Homo sapiens: one gene and its partner. The protein of the gene in region 1 interacts with the protein of each later gene in a pairwise test. Each region holds a gene or a part of one and is shown on either strand. Other genes may lie near its edges.

Region 1 (5,220 bases):
AGATAGAAGGAACTAAGACTTCATCTAAAAAGTCATCTTATTACCAAAGATAGGAAGGAAGCATGTTTGGTTTTATGTAGACTTTAACTTAGTGTAAATGTGCAACGTTTTTTTTTAGATCCAGCAAAGACGAGGAATGATGACATTCTAGTAGAAAGACAATAGATTTGAAGAATCAGCGTAGTGTAATAACTAAGAACACAGACTTTGGAGCTAGACTGCCTAAGTCTCTGTAACTTACTATAAAACTATATGAACTTGGGAAAGTTACTTAGTTTCTTTATGCTTTTGTTTCCTTGTGTAAAATTGGCATAATAATGGTAACCACCTAATAAATCCAAATCAGTTAATATATGAGAAGATCTTGGAACAGTGTCTGGCATACAGAAACACTCAATAAATGTTAGTAGCTAGTATTTTATTTTTAAAGTCTGCTGAGTAGATTATTGAAACAAGCTTTCTAATAAACCTTTTAAGAATAAAATGAAGTACCCAATACATTTAGCTGGCCTAAAGTTTTGTATGATAACAACAGTATAGACTGCAGTGTGTATGTGTTTTATTTATAGTTCATATCCTTGCGAATGTAACTTGAAGTGGTGTGCCTACCTTTGCGAATTTAATGGTATATCAAAGGTGCTTTTACATCAAATTAATGGGGAAAGTAGTTAATTCAGTAAATGGTGTTGGGACAAGCATCTAGCCATTTTGAAAAAAATAAAGTTATATATATGTATATATATGAATATATATGTATATATATGTGTATGTGTGTGTGTGTATATATACATATATACACACACCTCATACTTTATACATAATAAACCTAAATGTATCAAAGATTTGAGTGTAAAGAAATTAAACAGAAGAAACTTTGGGAGAATTATTTTACAAATTCAAGAATAAAAGATCAATAAATTCAATCTCATTAAAAAATGATATGTGGCAAAATCCAAAAGCAAAGACAAATGAGAAACTGGAAAAAATATTTTCAGCTCATTCTAAACAAGGGTTAATTCCATAAGATGTGAAGAATGCCAACAAATTGATAAGAAAAAGAACATAACGCAATAGGAAAATGGACAAAGAATATGAACAGAGAGTTTCACAGGAAATACAAATGACTCTTACACATAAGAACTTGATTTCATTTATAATAAAAGGAATATCACTTTAACCTTTCACTGAAATACCAGTGTTTATTTTTCAGTATAGCAAAGATCAAAAAGTTATTAACATACTGCATTAATGAGGGTGTGAGTAACTAGGGACTCTCATACGTTGCTGAAGAGACTATAAATTGGGTCAAATCTTGTGTAGAATAATATAACACTATCAGGCAAAATTACATGTGCACATGTCTGTTGACCCAGCAAATCAACTTCTAGAAATATAGCCTATAGGTAAATTACATATTTTTATGTGTGTGTGTGTATGTGTCATATATATATATGTATTCATGTGTGCATGTATGAAATTCTCTACAAGGATTCCCAGAAACCTGATAACATGCTTTGCCTGGAGTAAGGGTGAGGAGTGGGGATGAGTGATGGTGGAAGTGATACTTTTCACCATACATCCTTTTTATATCTTGAGAATTTTGAACCTCATGAATCTTAAAGTTATTCAAAAATACAAATTTATGAATGTAAATGAAGGGAAAAGTTAGGTACAAGCACTTTGGAGGAATCATTTTTGAACCTCACAGTTTTCCAATCTTCATTTTATAGAGAAAGAGGCATTATTGGAGACTTGACAGCAAATGTCTAACATTATTTCAGAATGAATCTGGATCAAAGTATTATAAGGTAAGGATTTTACACTTTAAAAAATATAAGCATTAAGATAGTGTATGTTTTTTTCAGATAATATTCATTAACTGTTATATTTGAATATATATGACTCTAGCTAGTATGGTTTATAGAAGTCACTGTTAGGTTCCTTGTTGAAGCAACTATTTCCCATACCAAATTTCACTCCCCCACAGCAGCTCTCCTTCCAGACTGTTTGTTGTTGTCGTGTATTTATTTATTTCTGGCTTGCCTGTCAGGTTGCTGCTGCTTTCCTTCTGGATACTCTGATTTAGATTAGACTGCTTAGAAAGTCCCATCATCATTGACTGTCCAGAAGAGGTCAGTGAGGTATTTAGTATTTCTCCCACCTTCCACCTTACCTTGGGTGCCAATTCCCAATTGCTTGTTTGGCTCTTAATCTCCTTTTTACAGTCTTCCTTGCTTGGCTTATTCCACGTTTTGCCACATCACAAACTGATAGCAAGCAAGATTATAACCAAGCAGTTAGGTCAGTAAGAGAGAATGGGAACTAATGGCTTGCTTTGAGCAGGTGTTTTTTTGTTTGTTTGTTTTTAGTAAGTTTTTTTTTTTGCCTTAGGAAGTGGACTAAAAATATAATGATTGCTACAGGTTACTCCAGTGGACAGAACCAGAATGGGAGTGGCTTAAACAACTGACCAAGATTCTGCTTTTTCTGCCATTATTTCTGCTTCTTACTTGCTTTGGGGCTATATCTTGTAGACTACAGTCACTAGATAAGTAGTTGTGAAGCTGAATTAATGACAGTTGGAAGTTACAAGTGTTGGATATAGTGGCAGATTACTCTCCTATATCTTCTTCCTTGCATCCTAATGATCTGCTACTGGCTTAGTTATCATAGTCCATGCTCTGCGTCTGGCATTGCTGGACATTGCAGCTCATTCAAGACAGGCCATGTCATAAGACTCAACTGTGTATTAAATGTTGCATACTTGTGTCCGTCTTAATGGCATTCATTGAAATGCATATCTCTGGTTCTTTAGTGTATTTAAAAATAAAAACAAAGATCTATTCTTATTTTTCAATGCTTAATTTTTTACTTCAGGAAATTCCACTTTCAGAAATTCTCCGCATATCTTCACCACGAGATTTCACAAACATTTCACAAGGCAGCAATCCACACTGTTTTGAAATCATTACTGATACTATGGTATACTTCGTTGGTGAGAACAATGGGGACAGCTCTCATAATCCTGTTCTTGCTGCCACTGGAGTTGGACTTGATGTAGCACAGAGCTGGGAAAAAGCAATTCGCCAAGCCCTCATGCCTGTTACTCCTCAAGCAAGTGTTTGCACTTCTCCAGGGCAAGGGAAAGATCACAGTAAGCAATAAACTTCTTGATGGCTTTTTCTCCTCTTTAATTCTTAAGCATTTTGTGGGTATGGTTGTGTTCCTTTGTTCCTTTTAATGTTCATCCTAAGCTTAGTCTTTAGTAACCAATACTTTAGTAACCAATACAATTAGTTAACTCTTTTATAAAATTATATTGGTTATAGTATATATACGTACATACAATGCCCAGTGCTAGGCTCCAGAGTCAGTTTTCCTACATGAAAATCCTGGCTATACCATCTGTTATATGATCAGGCAAGTACTTTACCTCACTGTAGTAGTAAGTACTTCATAAGGTTGTCAGTATTAAATGAAAGAGAACCTGTAAGATACAGAACAGTGCTTGGCATCCGTAAAGTCTCATTGGATTATGCCTGCTACTGGTATTAATATTTTGCTTTATAGTGGGATATAAACAGGCAATAAAGTATTATGGTTCACATCACACTCATGAAATCTGTGAAGTCAGAAATGCTGTATTAAAACATACAGAAATATTTAAAAATCACTGAAACATGTTTTGCACCAACAAAACTTATATAATTAAGCCTAAATTGGATAAAGTTTCAAAAGTAAACAGTTAACAATCGAAAGGTCACTATAATGTCACTTCTCCCCCATTAACATTATGTTGCTTATGGGGACACATAAGTCATTCATTTGAGAAATATACTCAAATTGAAATAAGTATCAACAACTTTCCAAAGGTAGTTTATTTTAGTTTAGCTGTATTATTTTGTACAACTATTATGCTAGGCCCTGAGCTAAAATACAAAATAAATACAGAAATCATAAAAGCTCTTTAGGGAGAGATGGGATATATAAAGGTATTAGATGGTAGCATAAAGCAGTACAGTGCAAAAGTGAGGAATACATTACTTAAAAAACTCAGATACAGACAGAAGAGTAAACAAGACTTCATAGAAGAACCTGATTTGAACCTCAGGTAGAAATACAGTAGGCAGATCTCAGTGGGAGGGGTGGAGGGGTAACATTATTTAGTTGAGACAAGTGTGATGAGGATCATGACAACTGTGTACATGTTTGGTGTTCAGTACTGATTTGGGGTTGGAATGGGTGTAAGTAGATGGATGTTTCACAGTGGTTCTTAAGTTTTCGAGGTTTTTAGACAGAACTCTATGTCATTCTAATTAAAACTAGGACTGTTTCCTCAGAAAACAATACAGGCACTTACACACTCTTTAAAAGATAAATGAGGTGATTTATTTCAGGCAATAAATGTATTAAAGTACCAAAAAACAACATTATAAAATTATAAAAATGCAAGCAATTTAGAAGTGTATAAAAACTCTTTGTCCCCCAACCCCACCTCTTCCACTCACCAAAAGTAATCACAGATTTTTGTTTTTAATTTAAGCACTGCTACCCTGCAATTCCCTTGACTCCACTTCCCCCCCTCCCCCCACCAAGAGACAGGGTCTCGCTATGTCGCCCAGGTGAGAGTGCAGTGCGCAAATCATAACTTGCTGCAACCTCAAACTCCAGGGCTCAGATCCTCCTGTCTCAGCCTCCTGAGTAGCTAGGACTACCGGTGCACACCACTATGCCTGGCTAATTTTAAAATTTTTTTAGAGATAGGGTATCCTGTAGCCCAGGTGGTCTCAAACTCCTGGGCTCAAGTGATCCTCCTGCCTCAGCGTCCTAATGCACTGGGATTACAGTAAAACTTCCCTTTTTAACTCAGTAATAATCATAACTAGCTTTCTGACTTTCTGATTCAGTATTTATAGTCCTACATCATCGATTAAATGTTGAGATAGTATTCTTTTGTATGGATGTATCATATTTTATCTAGTTTCCTGTTGATGGGTTGTATGTGTAGATTTTGTTAATGTACATAATTGTATTAACTGTGTGCTAAACTTTTTAAAGTTTGATATACCATGAGCATTCACATGTCAGTAAAGATTAATAATATTGTCATATACTAAATTTTGTCTTTTTTATATTTTACAGAAGATTTGTCTACAAGTATCTCTGTATCTAATTGTCAGATTCAGGAGAATGTGGTAAGTAATCGTTATAGCTAATGTG
Region 2 (5,220 bases), on another chromosome or scaffold:
ATTTTTGTATAGGAATCTTTTTCTCCTTTGGAAATAATGTTCTACTCCATGGTCTGTTAGTAACAATCATTTAGGATTTTTTGCCAGGTGTTCAGTTCACACATGTATTACATGCTGTTCGGCAAATTCTATCTCATGATGTAAGACTGACTTAATTTTCCTCTACTTTGTGTCTGTAGCTTTGTGTGCATGTGTTAGGGTTTTACCTTAATTATTCTTTAAGATACTGAATTGGATTCTGAATCTCTGATAGTATTCTTTAAGATACTGTATAGAGATTATTGGCTTCACTGTTTCTTAAGAAGCAGATGAAGATGGCAAATTCTGCACAAAAAAAGCACTTACAATTTTTTTTCTAAGGCTTGTCTTACTTTCCCCTCTCTGGAAACATCTTCAATTGAAGTTATTTTCCTCTCCGCATAATCCTGTTGCTAATCAGATACAGAAGACAAAGAGGATAGCAAATGAAACCAAATTCAGTGGATACACAAGCCATATAAATAGTAAAGCAATTTTACATTTAGATAGGCATTCTGATGTTTGGATATTATTGGGGTGGAAATGGCTATTATAAAAACAGGGCTTTTTTTACCCCTGGTTTTTTATTTTTATTTATTTATTTTTTGAAACAGGGTCTCACTCCATCACCTAGGCTGGAGTGCAGTGGCATGATTTCGGCTCACTGCAACCTCTGCCTCCTGGGTTCAAGCGATTCTCCTGCCTCAGCCTCCCGACTAGCTGGGAATACATGCACATACCACCACACCTAGCTATTTTATTTTTTGAGATAGGGTCTCACTCTTCACCTAGGCTGGAGTGCAGTGGTGCAATCTTAGCTCACTGTAGCCTTGACCTCCTGGCTCAAGCCATCCTCCCACCTCAGCCTCCCAAGACGCTGTGACTACAGGCACGTGCCACCATGCCCAGCTAATTTTTTTTTTTTTTTTTTTTTAAGAGATGAGGTTACATCATGTTGCTCAGGCTGGTCGTGAACTCCTGGGCTCAAGTGATCCTCCTGCATCAGCCTACCAAAATGCTGAGATTATAGGCATGAGCCACCATGCTGGTCTTTCCTGTTTTTTTTTTTTTTTTTTTTTTTTTTTTTTGAGACAGTCTTGCTCTGTCACCATGGCTGGAGTGTAGTGGCACGATCTTGGCTCACGGCAACCTCTGCGATTCTCATGCCTCAGCCTCCTGAGTAGCTGGGACTACAGGTGGGTGTCACCATGCCCAGCTAATTTTGGTATTTTTAGCAGAGGAGGGGGTTTCGACATGATGGCCCGGCTGGTCTTGAACTCCTGGCCTCAAGTGATCCGCCCCTCCCAAGTGATCCTTGGCCTCCCAAAGTGCTGGGATTACAGATGTGAACAGCTGTGCCTGGCCTCCTGTTTTATTTTTTTGAATGATCATCATGCCACTGCACTCCAGGCTGGGCAACAGAGTAAGACTCCATCTCAAAAAAAAAAAAAATTATCAAATAAAATTCTGTGTAAGAATTCTGTGTACATATATTATATACAACAAGTTGTTTTGAAATATGTATATATTGTGGAATGGCTAGATTGAGCTAATTTATATATGCATTACTTTATAGACTTATCTTTTAGGCCACTTAAAAATCTACTGTCAGGAATTTACAAGAATACAATACATTGTTATTAACTATTGTCACCAAATAATGTTTTTTTTTTTAATATGGAATGCTTCACGAATTTGTTGTCCTTGCGCAGGGGCCATGCTAATCTCTATATCGTTCCAATTTTAGTATATGTGTTGCTGAAGCGAGCACAGAACAGTTCTTAATATTACGTTTTTATCTTGGAAAGATATCTGGTAAGGTTGGGACAAATGCAGTTTCCTGTGGGTAAAAAATAGGTAGATGCTAAGTACAGAGCGCAGTAAAATTTTAACAGAATGGTTTGGACCAAGGTCATTTTGTGAAAATGAAAAACTTCTTGGTTAAAAAAAAATGAAGTCTGGGCGCGGTGGCTCACGCCTGTAATCCCAGCACTTTGGGAGGCCAGGGCGGGCGGATTACTTGTGGATGGGCGTTCAGAGACCAGCCTGGCCAACATGGTAAAACCCCATCTCTACAAAAATACAAAAATTAGTGGGCATGATGGCACCCGCCTGTAATCCAGCTACTCGGGAGGCTGAGGCAGGAGAATCACTTGAAACCAGGAGGTGGAGGTTGCAGTGAGCCGAGATTGCGCCATTGCTCTCCAGCCTGGGGGACAGAGCAAGACTCTGTCTCAAAATAAAAATAAAAATAAAAATAGATGAAAAGATGCTCCATACTTAGATGTTGAGAAATTAATTTTGACTGTCTGAAAGAAATCTTTCCCATGTGCTTGTTGCATTTAACTTGGAGTGTGTGTTAGAGTGTGGGCGAGAGTATAAGAGTATGGGTCAGAGTATGAGATTTGAAGGATGATTTACCTGGTGGGAAGCTATTGAGGTGTGAAGCTTTTGCTGTGGTGAGTATTTGGATTATCATAGTCACCATCATTCTATGAAACCACATAAGTCTGCCAGACTTTTATTATGTAGAAGTCTTCCTGGTATTAAGCAATAATATGTGTTTGTTTCTGCAGGTACTTCTTCCTGCCCTCTCTCCCACCATGACCATGGGCACAGTTCAGAGATGGGAAAAAAAAGTGGGTGAGAAGCTAAGTGAAGGAGACTTACTGGCAGAGATAGAAACTGACAAAGCCACTATAGGTGAGATTTCTTCAGCTCTTAATGGTTGAGGCACTGAGTTTCCCAATGAGGAAGAGGATTGCCATTCTTTCCTATAATGAGTGAGTGATAATATGAAAACTTTATAATTCTTAGGATTCATTTTCTGGGACAGAATATTTTATTTTTATTTAGTTATATGTATTCTTTAGTTTTTATTTATTTATTTGTTTATTTGCTTATTTTTCAGACAGGGTCTTAATCTGTTGCCCAGGCTGGAGTGCGGTGGCAAGATCATAGCTCATTGTAGCCTTGAACTCCTGGGCTTATGCCCAAATGATCCTCCTGCTTTAGCCTCACAAGTAGGTAGGACTACAGGCCTGAACCACCACACCTAGCTGATTTTTTAAATTTTTTGTAGAGATGGGGTCTCACTTTATTGCCCAGGCTGGTTTTGAACTCCTGGCTCAAGCGATCCTCCTGCCTTGGCCTCTCAAAGTGCTGGGACTCCAAGCGTGAGCCCCTGTTCCTGGCCCAGCATAATTTATAACAAAAATAATGCGTAGTCAGATTTGTCAGTTCCATCCTGTGCTCACTGAATCAAAGGCAATCAATCTGTCAATTCACAGATTATTTTTAGGCCCAAGTTTGCTTCTTGGCCTTATTATGTTACTGAGAAGCTATATCAGAATTGCTGCTGTCTAAACTAGGCAAAGGAAGTCAAGAAGAAACAGGAGAAAATCACTTCCATGGCAGGATAATAGCAAAGAATTTAAGATGACTTTGAGGGAAAACTGAAACCAGGGTTGAGATTGTTTTCATAGTTTGAGAATGACTGATAGAATGTATGTGTGTAATATATATATGTTCAGATATGTCATATGTCCACATATCTCCTTCTTAATTCATTTTTAGGCTAAAAAAACCCATATAGACAATAATATATTTATTATTATTATTTTTTTTTTTTTTGAGACGGAGTCTCGCTGTGTTGCCCAGGCTGGAGTGCAGTGGCGCAGTCTCAGCTCACTGCAAGCTCCACCTCCTGGGTTCACGCCATTCTCCTGCCTCAGCCTCCCGAGTAGCTGGGACTACAGGTGCCCGCTGCCACGCCTGGCTAATTTTTTGTATTTTTAGTAGAGATGGGGTTTCACTGTGTTAGCCAGGATGGCCTTGATCTCCTGACCTCGTGATCCACCTGTCTTGGCCTCCCAAAGCGCTGGGATTACAGGCGTGAGCCATGGCGATTTGTAGTATTATGAATTTCTTCTCTCTGCACCCCCGCTTTTTCTTTTTTTTTTTTGAGACAGAGTTTTGCTCTGTCACCCAGGCTTGAGTACAGTGGTGCGATCTTGGCTTACTGCAGCCTCCGCCTCCTGGGTTCAAGCAATTCTCCTGCCTCAGCCTCCCGAGTAGCTGGGACTACAGGCATGCACCACCATGCCTGGCTAATTTTTTGCATTTTTAGTAGAGATGGAGTTTCACCATGTTGGCCAGGCTGGTCTCGAGCTCTTTAACCTCAGGTGATCTGCCTGCCTCGGCCTCCCAAAGTGCTGGGATTACAGGCATAAGCCACCGCACCCAGCCTCTCTGCTTCATAATCACCACCAAAGGGAAGCCTTTCCCAAAGATGTAATGGGAGGTACTGGGCATCCTCTGCCTTGGTTGTTTTCAGATTGTGTTCTTCAAATCCCATCATTCCTTTAAGGCACCTTGAGGCAAAGGGGGAATTAAAGAGCAGGACCTTACAGCCCTGCCTCCCTGCCTTACTTCCAGCAGAGCAGTTCTTTTCTATCTTTTTGTATTTTGTGCTTCCCCATAAATTTTATTTGAAGAAAGGATTCTGTTTCTTAAAAACACAGAAACTTTGGAAACAGTAGTTCTGCTTCACCATTTAACTTGAATACCAGTGTCACTATAGAGACTAGTCACTAGAGAAGTGTTACCTTGGTTGAACTTTGAAGTCTATTGTGGCCCAGGAGCCTTTTCATTTTAAACACTTCTTTTTTTTTTTTTTGGAAACAGAGTCTGGCTCTGTTGTCCAGGCTGGAGTGCGGTGGCGTGATCTCGGCCCACCACAACCTCTGCCTCCTGGGTTCAAGCGATTCTCCTGCCTGAGCCTCCTGAGTAGCTGGGACTACAGGTGCATGCCACTACGCCCGGCTAATTTTTGTATTTTTAGTAGAAATGTGGTTTCACTATGTGGGCCAGGCTGGTCTTGAACTCCTGACCTCGTGATCTGACTGCCTTGTGCCTCCCAAAGTGCTGGGATTACAGGCGTGAGCCACCACCGCACCCAGCCTTTTTTTTTTTTTTTTTTGAGATAGAGTCTTGCTTTGTCGCCCAGGCTGGAGTGCAATGGCATGATCTTGGCTCACTGCAATTTCCACCTCCCGGGTTCAAGCAATTCTCCTGCCTCAGCTGCCCAAGTAGCTGGGATTACAGGCGCCTGCCACCATGCCTGGCTAATTTTTGTATTTTTAGTGGAGATGGGGTTTCACCATGTTGGCCAGGCTGGTCTTGAACTCCTGACCTCAGGTA

The links.
Region 2: the proteins of PRKD3 (region 1) and DLAT interact in a two-hybrid assay, tested with the Homo sapiens proteins (one large-scale study listed by BioGRID and IntAct).

The regions. Positions count from the first base shown.
Region 1 is NC_000002.12:37,272,355-37,277,574, reverse strand, and holds part of PRKD3 (serine/threonine-protein kinase D3), read left to right. Parts: intron 1-1,730; coding exon 1,731-1,808; intron 1,809-2,877; coding exon 2,878-3,154; intron 3,155-5,142; coding exon 5,143-5,195; intron 5,196-5,220. UniProt on the Homo sapiens protein: Converts transient diacylglycerol (DAG) signals into prolonged physiological effects, downstream of PKC. Involved in resistance to oxidative stress.
Region 2 is NC_000011.10:112,030,810-112,036,029, forward strand, and holds part of DLAT (dihydrolipoyllysine-residue acetyltransferase component of pyruvate dehydrogenase complex, mitochondrial isoform 2 precursor), read left to right. Parts: intron 1-2,594; coding exon 2,595-2,721; intron 2,722-5,220.